Linked DNA regions of Homo sapiens: region 2 is linked to region 1. The links come from fine-mapping of genetic effects on gene expression. A gene starts in region 1. The other region holds a variant in brackets. All regions are shown on one strand. Distances are between the middles of the regions. Region 1 holds the start of STAT1 (signal transducer and activator of transcription 1). Region 2 overlaps GLS (glutaminase).

Region 1 (5,384 bases):
GAGCCTCATGACATCTGATGGTTTTATAAGCCACTGGCATTTCCCCTGCTTGCATCTATTCTCTCTCCTGCTGCCCCGTGAAGAGATGCCTTCTGCCATGCAGAACTGTGAGTCAATTAAACCTCTTCACTTTATAAATTACCTAGTCTCGGGCAGTTCTTTATAGCAGCATGAGAACAGACTAATACAATAAACACGAGCCAAGAAGCCTGGCTAATTTTTAAATTTTCTGTAGAGACAGCCTCTCGTTATGTTTCTGAGGCTGGTCTCAAACACCTGACCTCAGGCAATCCTTCCACCTCAGCCTCCCAAAGTGCTGGGATTACAGGCGTGAGCTTCCGCACCCTGCCACAGTTGGTTCTTAAGGCTGGTTGAGCTAGTACATATGTAGCACCTGGCACAGAAGAGGTGAATTAATAAGCTCATGTTTGGGCTGGCCAGGTGGCTCACGCCTGTAATCCCAGCACTTTCGGAGGCCAAGGTGGGCGGATTGCCTGAGCTCCGGAGTTCAAGACCAGCCTGGGCAACATGGTGAAACCTTGTCTCTACTAAAATACAAAAAAAAATTAGCAGGGCATGGTGGTGTGCACCTGTAGTCCCAACTACTCGTGAGGCTGAGGCAGGGGAATTGCTTGAACCCAGGAGGCGGAGGTTGCAGTGAGCTGAGATCGCGCCACTGTACTCCAGCCTGGGAGACAGAGAGAGACTCTGTCTCTAAAAAAAAAAAACAATGAATAAATAAGCTCATGTTCACAAATCTGGAGTCAGTCTCATCTACTCACAAAACCTGTTACCAACTCAGGGAGTGGCATGGCCATCTCCCAGTCACTGAGCTCAAATCTCAGATTTAGGGTTGATTCCTTCCACTCCATCCCAAGACCTGCTCCTTCCTGTCTCCAACATTCTACCTTCCCAGTCCAGCCTCTGCTGCCCACAGATTGGACCACATCAATCTCCTGTGCAAAAATCCTATGATCTGTCCATTCCTAGGCAGATTTCCACCCCACCCCATCTTCATCCATCAACAAAGCAACCCAGTCACCAAATCATTTACTGTTTTTCAACTGTGCCCAACATTTCTGCTTTGCTCCAGCTACTCGCCCTTGGAAACAGCCTCTCCACAAATTTTTGCGTCTCTAAATCCTATAGCATTCAAAGCTATGTACAAAAGCCCCTTCTTTCATAAAGTTGTCTGAGACTTACTCACAATTAAGCTTTCTTTGACTTGCGTCTCACTGAATTCTGTACCTCTATTAGAGCATCGGTTCCAGTTTTCCTTGTAAAGCTCTGTGATGCCTCCAGAGTCCCCGGCGGGGGAAGGTGGGTGGGGAGGGGGTAGAGTAGTGGGGTATTTTGCTTTTTAACATCTTATGGACCTTGGACAGTGCCCTGCATATACTATGTGCTCGAAACAGTTTGTTGAATTGAAATTATGTATATTTCAGACGGAATTAGAAAGTAAAAAGCAAACCATATTATGATCTCACAAGTGTGAGTCCAGCATCCTCATTAAGCAATGGTTGCACAATGGACTGTGCTGGAGGCTCAAGTCCTGTTTCTGTTCTATGAAAATAACTCCTTATCTATACAAACAACATTCAAAGCACAATCAACCACACCTCTGCATACCTACCACAGAACTCTTCAGTACCGGCCAGAAATTTTTTTAAGACTATATTATTTTGGGGTGGGGGGTCTGCAAAAACTAAACATCACTTTTAAACTCTAGGAAGACATTAAGCCCTTCCATCTTTGAACATAGAAACATAATTAAGATTCCGAAGTCATGTACTCATTCATCTGATTCCATGAACATTTACTGACCTGCCACCTTGTGCCCCAACAAGGGCCTGGGGATTCAACCAAAGGAGCAGCTACGCACAGCACGTTAGGTGCCAAGACTGTCGAGGTTATATACACAGAGTGCGAACGTTAACCTAGACAGCTCTCGAGGATGGCATACAGCAAATGAAACTTTCTGCGAAAAGAAGAAAACGTGACTGATGGAAAGGGGTGGAAACGGGAGAAAGTGACGGTAAATGGGAAGGTGCAGTGCCTTCTAGAGGAAAATTATATTTCACAAGTCCTCTTCACTGCCAGAGCACGACTGGCAAGGACAATCGTGCTGAGCAGTGCCATCTCCGAGAACAGGTGGCACTGCTCGCACTTGGAATACTCAGGACGCGTTCTTCCTCTGGGATCACTATTCGCGGGTCAGCACAGACGGCCCGTCCTCGCCCGGCGTCCAACTGCACGGCCCGAGGACTCTGTCCCTGCGCGTCCCACCCCCGGCACCCGGAACCTCACGGCCACTCACTCTGCGCGCAGGATCCGGAAGGGCTAGGCGGGGGCGCGGCGGTGCAGCCTCTCCCGAGCGCGCTGGGTCGCCTCTGCTCGGTCTGGGGTCTGCCAGGCGCGATCCCCCCGGTGCAGCCGAGCCCCTCCGCAGACTCTGCGCAGGAAAGCGAAACTACCCGGCAGGAGAAAAGGCAGCGCTGGCGCCCGGCCCCCTTCCGCCCCCACCAATCACCGGGCGGCTCCGCGCTCAGCCAATTAGACGCGGCTGTTCCGTGGGCGCCACCGCCTCCCTCTGCGGGCCGCTGCTCCGCCCACGCGCTGGGGTATTTCCGCCGGCTTCCGGCGGGGGCCGCCGGCTGGGTGAGCTGCAGCCCAGTCCCGTGTTGCCACGCTGGGAACTGGCGTTCTGTTTACATATCTTAGAGAACGATCAGAAGGACGTGCTGTGTTTGCAGAAGCCCAAACTTGGAGGTCTCTGTAGTAGTTTCATCGCCGAGAATCCAGGCAGAGGACAGATTTGGCGACGTCGTCATTCTAGAAGCTCCCTTTAGCAACTGACCTCCGTGTTGCTAAACCCAGGGAACGCTTTTCTGTTTTTCTCACTTTACTTGACAGCTCGGAAGCATGGGGCAGAGTTGACGCCTTTGTTCTTGAAACACGTTTCTTCCTTGGTCATGATGATAACACATCCTTCTTGCTTTTTCCTGCCTCTGGCATTCTTTCTACATTGCCTCCACCTCCACTATCAAACCATTATATGTTAAGGTTGTCAGGGTCCAGACATTCGTCAGCTTCTTTACCTGGGCTTCTCCTAAACGCTGTGCTGTGATGACCTCACCCACAGCTTCAGTTTCCTTCTAGATGGAGGAGTCTTAAATGCTTATCCCGTCCACACCTCTCCTCTGGGCTTCACACCTACAACTCCCACTTGCCTCTCCACTTGTATGTGCAGTGAGCTCTACAAACTATGTTCAGAACCAAACATCTTTCTCCTCAAACCTGCTCTTTTTCTAGAAATGGCACATGACAGATACCTAGGATTCATAGTTGACATTGCCTTCTCCCTCACCTCGCAACACCTGATCCTCAAATCTTAATTGATTCTTCCTCCTAAATATTTCCCAAGTCTCATTTACTCTGCTCCATCTCTTCTGCTGCCTCCTTCTGCAGTAGATTCCCGAATGGCTGCCTCACTTCAGCCCTTATCTACCTTTTAATCCATTCTCCATACAAGAGTTTGAGTGTTTTTTTTTTTAATTGAAAAGCAGATCATGTCATTTGCCAACCTGAAAATCCTTCCATGGCTTTTCTTTGCTCTTATAAAATTCAGTTTCTTAATACATACTATAAAGCCCTGGTTGCCCGATCTCTTTGTCCAACCCCATAATGTGCCACTCTGCTTTGCTTACTTCAGCATTTAGTTCTTCAAATAAACCACACTCTCCAAACTCAGGGACTTCTCACCCTGAGTTTGGAAAACCCCTTGAGCCAACATCTGCTTCACCCAACTCTTCGCTGGCTAACTCATCTTTTAGATCTTAGTTTAAAAATCTCAGCTTAAATGTCACTTCTCCAGGTAGGCATTGCTGAAGCCAGACAAACTAAATCTTTTTGGACTATATGCTCATAAAATCAATTAGTTCCTTCAAGTAGACGGGATTTGAGTCAAGCCTTGAATAATTAGGCACTTTGGGGTAGGAGAAGGATCTGAATAATTTCCCATGGATATGCCTATATGTGTGTGTATGAGTTTTTTTTCTTTGCACATCTATTTGTTCTTCTTGTCACAAATGCACCCTCACAAAGCAAGTTAGCAGTGAAATTAGACTTCTCTGCCAAGAGATGCCACGGCACCAAAAGTGTCCCTTCTGCTCTTACTCACCCAAGAACCAAGACAATGTTTTACTGTTCTCTGAAAAAAGCTGTATTAATCCATTTTTAACGCTGCTAATAAAGACCTGAGACTGGGCAATTTACAAAATAAAGAGGTTTAATGGACTTACAGTTCCACATGGCTGGGGAGGCCTCACAATCATGGCGGGAGGCAAGGAGGAACAAGTCACATCTTTCATTGATGGCGGCAGGCAAAGAGCTTGTGCAGGGAAACTCCCATTTTTAAAATGATCGGATCCTCGAGACTCATTCACTATCACAAAAACAGCGCAGGAAAGTCTCGCCCCCATAATTTAATCACCTCCCACCAGTTTCCTCCCATGACAGGTGGGAATTGTGGGAGTTATCATTCAAGATGAGATTTGGGTGGGGACACAGCCAAACTATATCAAAAGTTGACTCTAGGAAGGGTAGATTACATGTTAAAAATTTTTTTTCTGGTACTATAAAACTTGCACAGATATTAGCTTCAATATTGATGAAGGAATGGAATAATCCTAACATCTGCAAATAGGATTATTTGGCACTCCAAATCCCAATTTGGATCATCAAGATCTGTGGATGCTTCCTTCCCTACCCCCCTTTATTTTAGCATCCACAGCAATACCTACCATAAGCCTTCATCACTTGAGAATTGGAATGCTATGCTAATCTCTAGGTATACTACCTTTTTCTTGTCTCTTTCTCCTTCACTATATTTGCCAAATTCAATTCCTTAAAATACTGCATTGATATAGTCATTCCCTGCTCAAAAGCCTTAACAACTCTCCTTGCACATATGATAAACACAAATGTTGTCTGCTAGTCTGGATCCTCCACAAAATGTTTCTTTCCTTCTTTCCAGCCTTTTCTATCATTGTCGCATTTCCCAACTAACCTCGTCTAGCTCCAGCACTCCCCCCATGCTTTTAATTTCCTGATTTCTGCCCCTTTGTACATACTGAATGGCAAGTCTTGCTCCTCACTCTCTTCACTTACCAAATTCTTATTCACCTGTTAAAGCCCAGCCCAAATACTATATTCTCTTTCTAGAACCACCTCAACCTGTAGCAATTAATCTGGGGTCTCTGAATGACCAAATAATATATGTGTCTCTATTTATTTGGACAATAACTATACACTCTCTAATATTATGGTTTTTGAAGTGTCCAATCCTTATGCCTCCAAGATTCAATATTCCTGAAGGATAAACT
Region 2 (5,384 bases), 85 kb before region 1:
TGGAATTCAGAAAGCCTTGCATGATTAAGTCGACCTTATCACAAATCTTTGCTATCTGGGGCAGTATTGCAAGTCGATTCTGTCGTTTTTGAGAAATAGGGAAGAGATTTTTTATATAAATAGGCAATGTAGTCAAAGTTAAACACACAATGTTCTAATTCACTGTACTTAGTTTTCCTCCTTGCTATTTCCAAACCCCTTTGTGCCTCTTGTAGATCTTGGAGTATGGCTGAGGAAAATTTATAAGTTGAACTCATTCTTCTCCTATCCACTTTATTTTTTGACCCCGTCTCATCCCAATTTTGCTTACTATTAGCTAAAAATAAAATGTGGAAAAATTTATTTTCATTTTATGGGTAAATTTGGGTTTGGTACGGTGAACTATTTTCATTATTTTGATTGTATTTAAATGCAAAAATTTTATCCTAGAGGGTATTCTTAGCACCCATAGTAAATATCAAATAAATATTAATAAATGGTCTAAAGGATAACATTTTGGTTTAGGCTTACAGAGCATCTGAGACAGATCTGCTTTATATTTTTCTTCCCCTTTTTCCTTTGCCTGTTACCATATAGATGGGGATGCCGAACTTTGTTATGGGTGAAATGTCAGGCACTGTAGCATTTTTTTCTAAAATGGTGATTTCTCATGTAGACACTATCATAATCTTCATGTATGGTGCTTTATCTTAAAAATATTTCATGGCTCTTTTTTTTTCTGTTGAGTTAAAAGTAATTATGCTTGTGTATTCCACAGAAAGTATTAATATTTAAGCAAATTTGAATATCACATGGGATAATAACAAATCTTAGTGTTTAGAGGCTGGCACTTCCTAGTCTAGTTCTGCCATTAAAAGACTGAGTATCTTTGGCCAAATCAGGGTAAATCTTAAAAGTGGGTAGGACTTCGGTCAACTAAAATCTTCAGAATGTCCTCAAGTTTATATTAAAGTAATCTCTTTGGAAGAAATATTTCAGATCTGTATGAAATACCAAATAAAATAGATTATCTTAAAAGTGAACAGTAATATTAAAAGTAGTATGAGAATTCTGCTTTTTCTTTGTGTTAGCTGTGCTCCATTGAAGTGACTTGTGAATCAGCCAGTGTGATGGCTGCGACACTGGCTAATGGTGGTTTCTGCCCAATTACTGGTGAAAGAGTACTGAGCCCTGAAGCAGTTCGAAATACATTGAGTTTGATGCATTCCTGTGGCATGTATGACTTCTCAGGGCAGTTTGCTTTCCATGTAAGTAATTGTTTAATCTTATTTTCTCTGGCAAGAAACTAGTCTGAACTGGTTCTTTTAAAAATGCAGTTTGAACTTTGCTTCTAAAGCTGTATATTAATTTTTGAGAGAGAGGCTTGTTTTCAAGGTTAATTTGTTACAAGATTAGTAAGGAATAGAGATAAGGTCTACCAGATGTTCTTAAGAACTTGGAAGTTTGATTTATAGAACCTCATCCCTTCTGCTTTTAAGGCAATCCAGTGTACAAGGTTAGTACAGTCTTTCTTTACTTTTTGTTTTTAATGTTTAGCATTATGATTATGTATCTTAAGAATTCTCTAAGTTCAGAAAGATTGCAAAGATGTGACGTTTCACATCTTTGGTTACGGCCATAGCTGTTTTAAGGACTAAAAGTGTATTAAAGTTAAAACTTAACAAAAATGTACTGCTTTAAGCTCTGTTGTGCATTTGCCACTTGTAAAGTATATAGACTTTTTTTATTTCATTCTGCTCATGTCAAGTCATAATGCCCTTCTAAAAGCTTTTTTTATTTTGGAAATTTTCAAACATGTAAAACGAGAGAGAGAGAGAGATACATTTAATGTTATCCATCACTCAGCTTCATTAATTATGAATACATTACTAATCTTGTTTCATCTGTATGTGCATCTGTTTCCCCTATCCTTGTCATATTTCAGTATGTAATTCTAAATAAGGATCCTTAACAAAACATAACAATAATACAGTTTTTACATATAAAAATTAAATATTACATATCAAAACTTTAATATCATTATTAATATCAATATTAAATTGAATATCAAAATATTTAGTTAGTGTTTAGATTTCCTGGATTATCTTGTAAATTATTATTTCTTTTTTTTTTTTTTTGAGACGGAGTTTCACTTTGTTGCCCAGACTGGAGTGCAGTGGCACGATCTTGGCTCACTGCAACCTCTGCCTCCTGAGTTCCAGCGATTCTCCTGCCTCAGCCTCCCGAGTAGCTGGGATTACAGGCGCCTGCCACTGCACCTGGCTAATTTTTGTATTTTTAGTAGAGATGGGGTTTTGCCATGTTGGCCAGGCTGTTCTCGAACTCCTGACCTCAAATAATGCACCTGCCTCAGCCTCCCAAATTGCTGGGATTACAGGTGTGAGCCATTGCACCTGGCCTATTATATTATTTTATAGTTTGTTTGACTTAGGATACAGATGAGGTGCATACATTATGATTGGGTTTTGTCTCCTTTTTTTTTTTTTTTAAATCTATTGGTCTTCTTTTGACCTGTCTCTCTTTTTTTCTTGTTATTTTTGGTTGGAAAAACTGGGTAATTTAGTCTATACAGTTTTCCACTGTCTCTACATTGCTGATTACCTCTGTTCCATTGTCCCTTGTATTTCCTATAAATTTGTAGATCCAATTCAGGTGTGTTTTTTTTTTTTTTTTTTTTTTTTGGTCTGCTTGTTTTGTTTAGTTTTGTGTAAAAGTACTTTATTGGTATACTTCTTTTATTTTTGTTTGTTTATTTATTTATTTATTTTGAGACAGAGTCTCACTGTGTCGCCCAGGCTGGAGTGCAGTGGCGTGATCTCGGCTCACTGCAACCTCCATCGCCTGGGTTCTAGCAATTCTCCTATCCAGAGGTACTGACTGACTGAATGTTAGTAAGCAATTAATGAACACTGCTCTAATGACATTAA[T/C]TTTTTTTTTTATCATTTGTCAAGTTTTGCTAATGTAACTTAAATTTTTTGAGGAGGAGTAATTTAAATTACCATTTTAGAAAATCTTTTAAGAATATATAACTTTTTATTGTTTTCTAGTTGTAAAATATTTTTAAAAAATAATTTGTTATATTTAAAAACAATACGTTTATCTTAGAACAATTAGAAAATATAGTCAGGAAGAATAAAAGCATCCATAGCCTCACAATTTAGATGTAACTGCTATAATTCCTTAGAATGTATCTTTAAACAATTTTTCTATATTCATATCTATCCCAAACTGTTTCATAATTTTTTTTTTTTTGAGATGGAGTCTTGCTTCGTCACCCAGGCTGGAGTGCAGTGGTGCGATCTTGGCTCACTGCAACCTCTGCCTCCCAGGTTCAAGCGATTCTCCTGCCGCAGCCTCCCGAGTAGCTGGGATTACAGGTGCCTGCCACCACACGCGGCTAAGTTTTGTATTTTTTGTGGAGACGGAGTTTTGCCATGTTGCCCAGGGTGGTCTTGAACTCCTGACCTCAGGTGATCTGCCCACCTCGGCCTCCCAGAGTGCTGGGATTACAGGCATGAGCCACCGCACCCGGCCTTATAACTTTATTTATAAACATGTTGATAAAAATTTATCTACAATATTTTTAATGTTGAAATTCTATGGTATGTATATATATATATTTTTTTTTTCGAGAGGGAGTCTCACTCTGTTGCCCAGGCTGGAGTGCAGTGGCATGATCTCAGCTCATTGCAATCTCTGCCTCCCGGGTTCACCTTTCTCCTGCCTCAGCCTCCCGAGTAGTTGGGACTACAGGCGTGCACTTTGGGAGGCTGAGGCGGGCGGATCACAAGGTCAGGAGATAATTTTTAATTTTTAAACCAATTTCCCAATTGTGTTTTTTTTTTTTTTGAAACTGGATCTTGCTCTGTCATCCAGGCTGGAGTGCAGTGGTGCGATCATGGCTCACTGTAGCCTTGACCTCCTGAGGTCATGTAATCCTCCCACATCATCCTCCAGAGTAGCTGTGACTACTGGTGTGCACTTCCATGTCTCACTGTTTTTTGTAGAGACGAGATCTCCCTGTGTTACCCAGCCTAGCCTCCAACTCCTGGGCTCAAGTGATCTGCTTGCCTTGGCCTCCCAAAGTGCTGAGATTACAGGAGTGAGCCATGGTGCCCAGCCCCAGTTTCCCTATTGTTGAACATAACATTTCTTATTTTAAAATGTTTACCTGAATACTCTTTTACTGAATTATTTTTAGGTTGGTCTTCCTGCAAAATCTGGAGTTGCTGGGGGCATTCTTTTAGTTGTCCCCAATGTTATGGGTATGATGTGCTGGTCTCCTCCTCTGGATAAGATGGGCAACAGTGTTAAGGGAATTCACTTTTGTCACGTAAGCATATTTTCTTAATGTAAATAATGGTGTTACAAGTTGAGCCATCCAATGATTCTTTTTTTTAACCCATTTTCCATAGTTCATTAACTCTTGGCCCTCCGCCTATAGTGTGCCAGTTACTAGGGAGCCGTGGAAATACTCCCAGAGGAGCTTCAAGTTGTCTCTGTCAGACAGCTCCCATTTAATTATTCCCACAGATTATATTTGTTAGATGCTAATATTTTAATTTTCATGGTTATAATTAGTATGAATTTTCAAAAGCTCAACAAAAGGTATTAAACTTGGAGAAGTAATTTAAAAGCCAGTATATCTTAAGAATTATTTTGGTTTATTATATCTTTAATCTGCATGGTTAAATATCTTTATCCATTGACTACCTTTAAACATTTTTTTGAGGAAATAAGCACTGAAAATTAAAAAAAGATTAAACCATTTTTAAACTGTTACTGCTCTTGATAGTTCTGTATTTTGTTGTTACCCAGTTCCTGCTAATGTTTGAGCTTCTAGTTTTAGTTACATTGATTACTTGCTTGAGTTCATATTAAGTACCATACTCAATTAAAATTGTTTTATTTTCCAGTCTTTTATATTTTACAAAAACTAGAGTATGACCTTGGAGTGCATATAAAATATAGTAGATTGTAACCAGAGTACTTATTTATATTTTAATGTGGCTTTACACTTATTTGATAGAAGAATTCTTTCATGGGGCCGGTTATAAACCCTATTTTGTAGAAGATGAAAGATGATTTGATTGGCTGAGCCCTAGGATCATGTTAGTAAGCAGTGTTCTTAAAACTTATATCCATATCTTACTCTGATTTTAGTTCTCTTCTTGATGCATTATACTACTTTATTAGCATGTAGTGATGATTTCTAGGCTGGACGATATAAGCAGAGTTTGTTAAAATATGGATATATATAACCAATGAATAGCCAATTTCTTATACCTGCTCTGTATAACTGTTTACAGGATCTTGTTTCTCTGTGTAATTTCCATAACTATGATAATTTGAGACACTTTGCAAAAAAACTTGATCCTCGAAGA

Evidence for each region. PIP is the estimated chance that this variant, and not a neighbour inherited with it, causes the effect.
Region 2: its variant is the best candidate, but not a certain one, in a credible set for the expression of STAT1 in whole blood (INTERVAL, PIP 0.88).

The regions. Positions count from the first base shown.
Region 1 is chr2:191,011,701-191,017,084 of GRCh38, forward strand. STAT1 (signal transducer and activator of transcription 1) reads right to left here and starts at 2,471. Exons shown (of 25, transcript NM_007315.4): 1 at 2,318-2,471; 2 at 1,825-1,978. RefSeq lists enhancers at 35-124, 553-612, 653-712, 1,824-2,143, 2,754-2,953 and 2 more and silencers at 2,234-2,433, 2,464-2,703.
Region 2 is chr2:190,926,236-190,931,619 of GRCh38, forward strand. It overlaps GLS (glutaminase), which reads left to right. Exons shown (of 18, transcript NM_014905.5): 12 at 1,071-1,247; 13 at 4,202-4,333; 14 at 5,310-5,384. Among named protein-coding and RNA genes, the nearest start is that of GLS, 48 kb to the left of the region's middle. The variant T/C (reference allele first, on the strand shown) is at 2,928.